Homo sapiens: one gene and its partners. The protein of the gene in region 2 interacts with the protein of the main gene of each other region in a pairwise test. Each region holds a gene or a part of one and is shown on either strand. Other genes may lie near its edges.

The links.
Region 1: the proteins of DDX49 (region 2) and HAP1 interact in a two-hybrid assay, tested with the Homo sapiens proteins (one large-scale study listed by BioGRID and IntAct).
Region 3: the proteins of DDX49 (region 2) and PAGE1 interact in binary tests that used the Homo sapiens proteins (3 or more experiments, as listed by UniProt).

The regions. Positions count from the first base shown.
Region 1 is NC_000017.11:41,728,138-41,731,785, reverse strand, and holds part of HAP1 (huntingtin-associated protein 1), read left to right. Parts: intron 1-42; coding exon 43-148; intron 149-226; coding exon 227-293; intron 294-3,454; coding exon 3,455-3,585; intron 3,586-3,648. UniProt on the Homo sapiens protein: Originally identified as neuronal protein that specifically associates with HTT/huntingtin and the binding is enhanced by an expanded polyglutamine repeat within HTT possibly affecting HAP1 interaction properties.
Region 2 is NC_000019.10:18,925,794-18,929,149, reverse strand, and holds the end of DDX49 (probable ATP-dependent RNA helicase DDX49), read right to left. Parts: intron 2,848-3,356; coding exon 2,773-2,847; intron 1,385-2,772; coding exon 1,296-1,384; intron 1,186-1,295; coding exon 1,114-1,185; intron 1,023-1,113; coding exon 834-1,022; 3' UTR 520-833; downstream 1-519. UniProt on the Homo sapiens protein: ATP-dependent RNA helicase that plays a role in various aspects of RNA metabolism including the regulation of mRNA export and the levels of pre-ribosomal RNA. Regulates the stability and synthesis of pre-ribosomal RNA and thereby regulates cell proliferation.
Region 3 is NC_000023.11:49,693,849-49,697,596, reverse strand, and holds the start of PAGE1 (P antigen family member 1), read left to right. Parts: upstream 1-1,612; 5' UTR 1,613-1,728; exon of another isoform or gene 1,729-1,738; intron 1,739-2,818; 5' UTR 2,819-2,826; coding exon 2,827-2,889; intron 2,890-3,395; coding exon 3,396-3,498; intron 3,499-3,748.

The DNA of each region.
Region 1 (3,648 bases), on a different chromosome or scaffold from region 2:
CCCCACTCCCTGCACCCTGACTCCCATTCCTCCCTCCCCTAGGATTTCGCAGGAGGCATTGCTGCACCAGCACCACTGCCCACAGCTGGAAGCCTTGCAGGAGAAGCTGAGGCTGCTGGAGGAGGAGAATCATCAGCTGAGAGAAGAGGTGAGAATGGGGGAGGAGGGCGTCCCTGCTAGCAGGGGGTGTTGACTTCCCTGTCCCTTCCTCTTTGTCTCCCTCCAGGCCTCTCAACTCGACACTCTTGAGGATGAGGAACAGATGCTCATTCTGGAGTGTGTGGAGCAGTTTTGTACGTAATGTTGTCACTCGGGGTGGGGGGTTGTCCCAAGGAGCAGAGAAAAGAACTCAAGATGTGGAGTATGGAGATCCAAGTTCAAGTCCCAGATCTGGCACTCCTAGCTGTGTGAACTTGGATACATTCCTTGACCTCTCTGAACCTTTGTCTTTAGAATGGGGATTAATTTTCTCAGCCCCACTGATCTCTCCAGGGTTTATGAAGATTAAGAGTGTCAACAGCTGAGGAAGTACTTTGTGCAAACTATAAAGAGCTATACAGAAATTGTGGGTCTCAGGCCAGGCACGGTGGCTCATGCCTGTAATCCCAACAGTTTGGGAGGCTGAGGCCGGCGGATCACCTGAGGTCAGGAGTTTGAGACCAGCCTAACCAACTTAGAGAAACCCTATCTCTACTAAAAATACAAAAATTAGCCAGATGCAGTGGCACAAGCCTGTAGTCCCAGCTCCTTGGGAGGCTGAGGTGGGAGAATTGCTTGAACCTGGGAGACAGAGTTTGCAGTGAGCCTAGATCACGCCACTGCACCCCAGCCTGGGCGACAGAGCAAGACTCCATCTCAAAAAAAAAAAAAGGTGGGTCTCCTCCAAGCCTGTCTTCTCTTATTTGGGGCAGGCAAGAGGGAGCCATGAGCTGCCAGAGACCAGGCACCCAGGGCTGGGACAGTTCAGAGTCATGCACGGGGCAGTGGCTGTGCCTGGCATCGTCCTAGGCACTGTGTGTTTATGAAGATGAGTGAGGAGCAGTGTTTGTGCCTGAGGAGTTCAAGTGTAGCTGGTGAGATGCAAACGCAAAGTGGCAACAGCTGAACTCCTGCTGTTCCCTTTACCCCAGAACTGACCTTCCTTCCTGCTGGGTTCTGCAACTCCCTGAATGGCCCCACTGGTCCCCAGGCTACTGGAGTAGGAACCAGTCCCCAAGCTCTGTTGCTTTTACCTCCTAGGAATGGCTTAAGTCTTTTTCCCCCTCCCCACTCGGGCTGCCTCTAGCCCAAGATACCTCTTAACTGGTCGCACTGCCTCTACTCGCGCCCTACCAGGAACTTCTGCACACAGCCTTAATGAGTTTTCTAAAACCAAACCTGGCCAGGTGCAGGGGCTCCCACCTGTGGTCCCAGCTACTCAGGAGGCTGAGGTGGGAGGATTGCTTGAGCCTGTGAATTCTGGGCTGTAGTACACTATGCCGACAGGGTCAGTATGGTCCAGGGAGTGGAGTACCACTGGGTTGCCTGAGGAGGGGTGAACTGGCTCAGGTCAGAAACAGAGCAGGTCAAAACTCCCATGCTGATCAGTAATAGGATCGCACCTATGAATAGCCACTGTACTCCAGCCCCAGCCTGGGAACCTGGCAAGACCTCATTTTTTCTTTCTTTCTTTCTTTTCTTTTCTTTTCTTTTCTTTTCTTTTCTTTTCTTTCTTTTCTTTCTTTTCTTCCTTCTCTCTCTCTCTCTCTCTCTCTTTCTTTCTTTTTTTTTTTGAGATGGAGTACAGTGTTGCAGTCTTGGCTCACTGCAACCCCTGCCTCCTGGGTTCAAGTGATTCTCCTGCCTCAGCTTCCTGAGTAGCTGGGACTACTGGTGTGTGCCATCACGCCTGGCAAATTTTTTTTTTTTTTTTTTTTTGACGGAGTCTCACTGTCGCCCAGCTAGAGCAATGTCATGATCTCAGCTCACTGCAACCTCCGCCTCCCAGGTTCAAGTGATTCTCCTGCCTCAGCCTCCTGAGTAGCTGGGATTACAGGCCTGTGCTACCGTGCCCAGCTAATTTTTGTATTTTTAGTAGAGATGGGGTTTCACCATGTTGGCCAGGTTGGTCTTGAATTCCTGACCTCAAGTGATCCTCCCGCCTTGGCCTCCCGCAGTGCTAGGATTACAGGTGTGAGCCACCACGCCCGGCCAAGACCGCATTTCCTTTTTTTTTTTTTTTTTTTTTTTTTTTTTTGAGAAGGAGGCTCCCTCTGTAACCCAGGCTGGAGTGCAGTGGTGTGGTCTTTGCTCACTGCAACCTCCACCTCCCGAGTTTAAGCGATTCTCCTGCCTCAGCCTCCCGAGTAGCTGGGATTACAGGCATGCGCCACCATGCACAGCTAATTTTGGTATTTTTAGTAGAGATGGGGTTTCACCATGTTGGGCAAGCTGGTGTTGAAATCCTGACCTCAAGCGATCCATCCCCCTCAGCCTCCCAAAGCGCTGAGATTACAGGCATGAGCCACTGTGCCTGTCCCAAGACCTCATTTCTTAAAAAACAAGTAGCCGGGTGCAGTGGCTCACCCCTGTAATCCCAGCACTTTGGGAGGCAGAGGCAGGTGGATCTCTTGAGGTCAGGAGTTTGAGACCAGCCTGGCCAACATGGTGAAACCCCGTCTCTACTAAAAATACAAAAATTAACTGGGCGTGGTGGCGCATGCCTGTAATCCCAAGTACTCGGGAGGCTGAGGCAGGAAAATCGCTTGGACTCGGGCGGCAGTTACAGTGAGCCAAGATTGCACTATTGCACTCCTGCCTGGACGACAGAGATTCGGTCTCAAATAAATAAATAAATAAACCAACAAACCCAAGTCTGACCACGTCATTACTGTGCCTAAAACTCCCAAATAGCTTTCCATTGGCCAAAGGATAAACCCCACCCCCTTGCCCACTACTGTGGTCTGGCCTGTGTGCACTGTTCTGGGCCCTCCCCGTCCCAGTGTCTTATGATGGCCTCTGGGCCTTTCCAGTCAGCTTGGACCCATGTTTTTCCTTCTTTGCCTGGGTGAGCTTCACTTGCCCTGTGGTCTTAGCTTAGTGGTTCCTTTTTCCAGGAATCCTTCCTTACCTTGCAGGTCGGGTTGGGTGCTGTAGCTGTGATGCCCCTGCCCTGTACACCCTTGACATTTGCCCATCATGGCCTGTATGATGTGTGACTGTGGTCTGTCTCCCCACCAACTTTACCTCAGTGTGGCGGCTGGGTCTTACTGACCACTCACCCTGGTGCCCTGCTCAGTATCAGTCAATGAACATTTCTTGAATGGAAGACCTGAGTGAGGAATGCAAAGCCCTGCAGGACCCACTGGCACAGCGCAGCAGCCGAGGGTGGGGGAGACAGAGGCATCTGGGAGGGCCAGAGCTGGTCCCTGAAGGCCAGGGGAGCCAGGGCTGACCTGTCCTCTGCCCTCCCCAGCGGAGGCCAGCCAACAGATGGCTGAGCTGTCGGAGGTGCTGGTGCTCAGGCTGGAAAACTATGAACGGCAGCAGCAGGAGGTCGCTCGGCTGCAGGCCCAGGTGCTGAAGCTGCAGCAGCGCTGCCGGATGGTGAGTCGGGTGTGTGTGGAACCCTCTTGTCGTGGCCCCATGGGACCCTAGCTTCCTTCTTCC
Region 2 (3,356 bases):
TTTCCCTGCGTCTTTTTGGGTGCCCCTGAATCCATGTAGCAGTTATAAGCCGCTTGCAGATGAGGGGTGAGGCTTGGAGTCCGAGGGGGGTCCAGGCCACACAGCCAGGAAGCTGGCTCTGGTGTCTCTCTGCCTGTCCCCTTGGGCTTAGCCCACATTGTCTGGCCAAATTTGGACTTTCATGGCCCCTTCACTCTGGCCACAAACCCCAGATGTGGCCAGGTGGGTGGCCAGGGAAGCTTATAGCTGCACCCATTCGGCACAGGACTGACCTCACCAAAGCCTCACAGCTGCCTCTGGAGAGCAGGGCAGTTGCTATGCCCATTCTCCAGATGAGGAAACTGGAAGCCCAGAGAAGGGGCTTCAGGGCCCAAAATCCCATGGCCATTCGAGCAGCTGGTGTCTGCAAAACTTTGGGCCTGCCTGGTGGAAATGGACATGGTGTTCTGGGCAGACACCTGAGAAACAACAGCGGCTGCACCCCACCTCTCCTGTCCCCCTGCTCTTCGAAAGTCAGACTGAGGAAGTCAAAAGACCCGTTTATTAAGCACCTCCTGTATGCGGCACCCCTGGGGGGTGACCTTGGGTTGGGGTCACAACCTCCCGGTCATGTTCTTTCTTCCCCTGCAGCCTGAATCTTGGCCAGGGCTCAGGGAAGGGACCAGCCAGTGGTTTCGGGGCAGAGGAGCAGGGCCCGCACAACACGAGCGCCCACGGGTTCTGCTGTGGGGCACTGGGTAGGCCCCCGGGAAGGGCTGCTGCCCCCAAGGAAGGTTCCTCCGACCCTCAGCTCCATGGACGAGTCAAGGACTGGGCAGATGGCCGTGTGGGGCTCAGACCAGGCCCTGGGAGGGGACTGGGCCTGAGTGGGACCCAGACGGTGTCCTGGGTGGACGCCCCTTGTGGCCAGCCCTGCCAGCCTTCTGTCGCTTCAGCGTCTCCTCCACCTTCTCCTTGAAGCGCCGGTTCTTCTGCTTGATCTTGGCCAGCTCAGCCTTGCGCTTGGCCTCCAGGTCAGGGTCCTGGCACAGGGAGGACCAGGGGATGGCTGAGCTGGCGGCCCCCGCCAGGGAACCTGGCCACCCACCCCCTACCTGCGGGCTCGGCCCTCACCTTCCCCTCCAGGATCAGCTGCTTCCGTTTGTTGATCTCCTTCTTTTCGTCAAAGTGGGCCGCCTCCAGTTTCTGGTGGAGGGAAGTGGGGTAAGGAGATGCTGGTCACGGGGGCCCCACCTGGAAGGGAGCACCCCCGGCCCTGGAGAGCACTTTAGTTCCTGCCCGCCTCTGACACTCACGATCTCACACTCTCTTCGCACCACGTTGACCTGTGTGAGGATCTGTAGCACCTCGGCCTCTTCCACGGAGAACTCCTCCAGCTTCTTCTCTGTGGGGACAGCAAAGCCGGGGGTGGGGGTGGGGAGGAGACGTGACATGGAGAGGGAGTTCAGCCAAGTAGTGAGTTCCCCATGCTGTGGGGTATGCAAGGCCATCTGGGGCCATATCAGGTAAGGGTCAGCTGAGCAAGATCAGGGATTTCTGAGGTAAGGAAGGTATGGACCGCTGTCTTTCAGAGTCTCACGGTCACCCAAGCTGGAGTGCAGTGGCACTATCTCGGCTCACTGCAACATCCGCCTCCCGGGTTCAAGTAATTCTCATGCCTCAGCCTCCCCCCGCCATTTTTTTTCGGTGTTAGCAGCATTATGAGTTTAACCATGAATATTAATTTCTTGCAAACAGTGTCCTTTAAAGTCCAGATATTTCTTTCTTTTTTTTTGAAGACAGGGTCTTACTCTGTCGCCCATGCTGGAGCGTGGTGGCTCAATCAGGTCACTGTAGCCTCCGCTCAAGCAATCTTCCAACCTCAGCCTCTTGAGTAGTTGGAACTACGGGCGTGTGCTGCTAGTTTCTATATTTTTTGGAGAGGCAGGGTTTCTCCACATTGCCCAGGCTGATCTCAAACTCCTGGGCTCAAGTGATCCACCCACCTTGGCCTCCCAAAGTGCTGGGATTACAGGTGTGAGCCACCGTGCCCGGCCTTAAAGTCCAGATGTTTCTCTTTTTTTTTTTTTTTTTTTTTTTGAGACAGAGTCTCACTGTCACCCAGGCTGGAGCGTAATGGCGCGACCTTGGCTCACTGCAACCTTTGCCTCCCGGGTTCAAGTAATTCTCATGCCTCACCCTCCCAAGTAGCTGCAATTACAGGCGTGCGCCACCACACCTGGCTAATTTTTGTATTTTTAGTAGAGACGGGGTTTCACCATGTTGCCCAGGTTGGTCTTGAACTCCTGGGCTCAAGTGATCCGCCCACCTCGGCCTCTCAAAGTGCTAGGATTACAAGTGTGAGCCACTGTGCCTGGCCAAGTCCAGATGTTTCTAAATTTCAGGACAGTCTATGCAGTGATCAGAGATACCTTAGGAAGTGTCTCTGTCTTGGCTGCATATGAAACCATTCCCAGGGGTTTTTAGCAGGCCAGGCCCTGTCAATGGGGCCTCTGACATCTCAGGGACCTTCCATACATCTCAGTCTAAGAAACCCAAGTCCCCTCCTGACTGATGTGGCTTTCAGCTGCTGGCGACAACTATGGGGAGTTTGTTTCAATAAATGGGCAAAAGAACTTCTTTTGGGGGTGCCTAGGGAAGGAAGCCCCAGCCTAAATCTGCTCACGGGAGCAGGCCGGCTGGTGTCTGACGGGAAAATGGGTCTCACCCCGAGGTGCCCACCTCTGCCCACCCCACCCCTCCTTCTCTACCACCCACCCCAACCCCACTCACTGATCTGCTCCTCGATGGCGTGCACCAGGTGGATGTCGTACTGTGTCACCAGCGTGATGGCCTGACCCTGCCGCCCTGTGGGGATGTGCCGGTTATCTGCTATGTGCTGGGCGTCAGGACATGGGGCGAATAAAGGTAGATCCTGACAGCTACACAGCTCAGGGGTCCTGGAGATGCTGAACAAGGGCTTGGGCTTGGGAGGGATCAGCCCAGAGTGTCTGGGCTTGACCCCAAGCAGGACCACTGTGTGGAGGACGGGTCGCTGGGGAGAGGCAGGTCTGCCAGTCTGGCCTTACACAGCAGTTAGTTACTGCCCGATTTCCCTTTTTGGCTTGGCTGCCAGGGAACCCAGTCTAAGTAATGCCAGCCATTAGCCCTGACGGGCCTCAGCCCAAGATCTCTGCTTGCTGTTTTCTGTGACGTTGACTAGGGCCGAAACTGCACTGATGGTGGACAAGGTCCGTGACCCTCATGGCAGCCCCACGAGGACGTCACCATTCTCATTATCCACCATGTGAGGTCTAGGGAGTGGAAGTGACCTGCCCAGCACCACAGGGTCAGGATAGAAGGTCCAGGCCCAGTCC
Region 3 (3,748 bases), on a different chromosome or scaffold from region 2:
GATTACAGGTGCCCGCCACCATACCCAGCTAATTTTTGTATTTTTGGTAGACATGGGGTTTCACCATCTTGGCCAGGCTGGTCTTGAACTCCTGACCTCGTGATCTACCTGCCTCAGCCTCCCAAAATGCTGGGATTACAGGTATGAGCCACTGCACCTGGCCAAGATGCCTAACTTTCATGCTTCTTCGTATTCTGAGTAATTTTGAATTATATGCTGGACATTTTGAATATCAGGTTATGAGACACTTCAACAATTTCTTTTTGTTTTGTTTTAGACACAGGGTCTCACTCTGTTGCCCAGGCTGGACTGCAGTGTGTGATCATAGCTCACTGCAGCCTTGAACTCCTGGGCCCAAGGGATCCTCTTGCCTCAGCCTTCACAGTAGCTAGGACTACAGGCATGTGTCATCACACTCAGCTATTTTTAATTGTTTTTTTGTAGAGACAAGGTCTCACTATGTTGCCCAGGTTGGAAACTCCTAGCCTCAAGCCATCTATCTTCTTACTTCAGCACGCAAAAGTGCTAGGATTATTGGTGTAAGTCACTGCTCTTGGCCACACAGAACAATTTCTATTTCTCTATCTTTGAGTTCACAAACTCTTTTCTTGTCTCCATTCTGCTATTGAATCCATTTGGGGAGAATTATTTTCCTTCGTTATCATATTTTCCACTTCTAAAATTTCCATTTGCTTCTTCTTTAAATATTCTTTTTTTGTGTGTGTGCCAGGACTTTGTTTTTACTTGTTTCAACAGTGTTCATGATTGCTTGTTTAAGCATTTTTTTTTTAGACGGAGTCTCACTGTTGTCCAGGCCAGAGTGCAGTCGCGTGATCTCGGTTCACTGCAACCTCTGCCTCCTGGGTTCAAGCAATTCTCCTGTTTCAGACTCCCGAGTAGCTAAGACTACAGGTGCGCGCCACCATGCCCAGCTAATTTTTTGCATTTTTAGTAAAGACGAGGTTTCACCATGTTGGTCAGGCTGGTCTCGAACTCCTGACCTCAAGAGATCCACCCGCCTCGGCCTCCCAAAGTGCTGGGATTACAGGCATGAGCAACCGCGCCCAGCCTAAGCGTTTATAAAATAGCATCTTTAAAGGCTTTCCCACATAATCCCAACATCTCTATCTTAGCAGTGATGTCTGCTGATTGTCTTTCCCTATTTCAGTGGCCCTATGTTCCTGGTTCTTCATATTCTGAGTAATTTTGAATTATATGCTAGACATTTTTAATATTTAGTTATGAGACTCTTAGTCTTGTATAATGCTATGAGGTATGTTGCTATTTCTGTTTTAGCAGGTCGTCTACCTCACTTCACAGGCAGCCACCATGGTCCTTGTCCCTATGGCAGGGCCAGAGCAAGAGAGGGCCCTGGAGGGGAGGGGGGCTCAGTTGAAGATGGAATGAGTTTTGAGGGGAGCACTATTTGAGGTATTTGAGTACCCGAGGCATATGAAACAGCAGAGGGAGGTCGGATTCCATTATCTTCACGGGGATGAAAATCGGGAGTGTGGGGTGTGGGGCTGGGAACTGCAGCCCTCCCCACCTTTGGGTGCTAGCCTCAGTGCGCATGTTCACTGGGTGCCTTCCCGTCGGCCCCTTCGCCCACGTGGAGAACGCCAGGGAGCTGTGAGAGTGTGCAGTCGCGTTCCTGCTGTCCGGACACTTTTTTCCTCTACTGAGACTCATCTGGTAGATCCGCAGGCCAGTCCTCCCAGGGGCTGAAGTGTGAGTGAGGGTGAGGAGGAGCCAGTGGGCTTCAGGCGGAGCCAGTGGGCTTCGGGCAGGTTCGGTGGGCCCCTCGGTCTGGTGGTGTGTGGCTTTTGAGGGAGAAGGGCCTCAGTGGCCTCCAAAAGAGAAGGGCCTCGAGCTCGTCCTCCTTCTCCTCACAGGCTGCGACGCCGCCATCGGCTTTGTGGTCGTGAAGGGGCCAGGACAGGGAGGAAAGTGGGCCATGAAGGGGAAGCGGTCAGGGGCTCAGGTGAAAATGAGGCGAGTGCTGCGGGTGCTGTTGGAGGGGTCAAAGTCCCGAGGTGGTAGGAACCCATGACACAGGGCACATTCCTGAGTCCTGAATGGGGCCCCGAGGCGGGAGGTGGGTGGTGAAGATGGCGGTAAAGAAGGGGCCTGGAACCTGGGAAGGCTGTGGGCTGGTGAGCGCCCCCCAGCGGTGTGGAGTGGGGAGTGCCCGAGTGAGAAACACCCGAGTGAGAAGCGTGGCAAGGTCTCACCTCTGCCATAGAAGGTCCGGAAACAATGGGAAGGACTGGGAGAGGCTGTGTGGCCCAACCAAACTTGATTTGAGGGGGGTGAATGGCTCTAGTAAGTGGGAGTGTGCCAAAAGCAGCAGTCACGGGAATTGTGATTCACTAGTGTTTTCATGTGGAGTCCGCTTGTGAAACTAAACCTCATCAGAAACGTCCTCTGTCAGAGGGGCGCAGTGGTGCGCGCCTGTAGTCCCAGCTACTCCGGACGAGGCAGGAGGATCGCGTGAGCGGGAGGTCGAGGCTGCAGTGAAGTGTGATCACGCCACTGCATTCCAGCGTGAGCAACAGAGCGAGATTCTGTGTCTAAAAGAAATTTTAAAATAATGTCCTCTGCCTTTTGCCACATGCCTTAAGATGACTACTCTGCCAGCTTGGGGAGCATAAGTGGCTTTGCAAGCACTCAGAAAACGTACACACTTGCACTTAACTCTGGGACTTATTTTGAGAGTATTTTCAAAATTAAAATGACAAGTTAACATTTAGCCATGGAAGTGATCGAATATAGCTGTCCTCTCAAGTGCATGTTCCCAATCACAATTTTCTCTTTTCAGTGTGAAATATGGGTTTTCTAAGAAGATTAATCTATCGGCGTAGACCAATGATCTATGTAGAATCTTCTGAGGTAATTGGGCCTATGCTGTTGAGTGCTTTAACGTTAATTCGATGTTTTCTATTAGCAGAAATTAATTTTTGTGATAGTGTTGTTGCATTAGTATAGATACACTAATAAAGGTAGTTCATGCTGATTAAAAAAATAAGATTCTGGTATCTCATGAAGGAAATATTGATTCAGGAGGATTTTTTTTTTCTCTTGTGTTCTCCAACTTTTGGCCATGACTTCTTTCTCATGCTTTGCTTGTGAATGACACATAGATTATACACATCTATTCCAACATAGAGTGCAATAGCTTCCAAAGTCCTTGTGGGTAACTTTTCTCGCAGTAACCTTTCTGTGGGTAGAGTAGCCTTATTAACCATATAGAATAAAGTTGGAGAAATATTTTTAGGTTTAGTTATGATCAGAAACATCTATGCATTCTCTGTGTGTATACGTATATATTTTTTGACATGTATTAATAACAAAACTTTTTGTCTTTGCACACTCACACACATATTCCCTACCACAAGGAGTCCAGTGATGAGCAACCTGACGAAGTGGAATCACCAACTCAAAGTCAGGATTCTACACCTGCTGAAGAGAGAGAGGATGAGGGAGCATCTGCAGCTCAAGGTGAAGGGAAAGGGAAGAAGAATGCCTGTTGGGGTGTGTGTGTGTGTGTGTGTGTGTGTGTGTGTGTGTGTGTGTGTCTCATGCATTGTCACATACCAGGAACAGGAGGAATGAAAGCCATGCAAACGATGCCTAGAAATTGACTGGAAAAGTGAAGAGGGTATAGTTTGCAGCTTACCTTAGGGAAATAAATCCCTCACTATGATAAAATTTCTCCACTTTATGAATGAGAGAATGGAGGCCCGGGGAT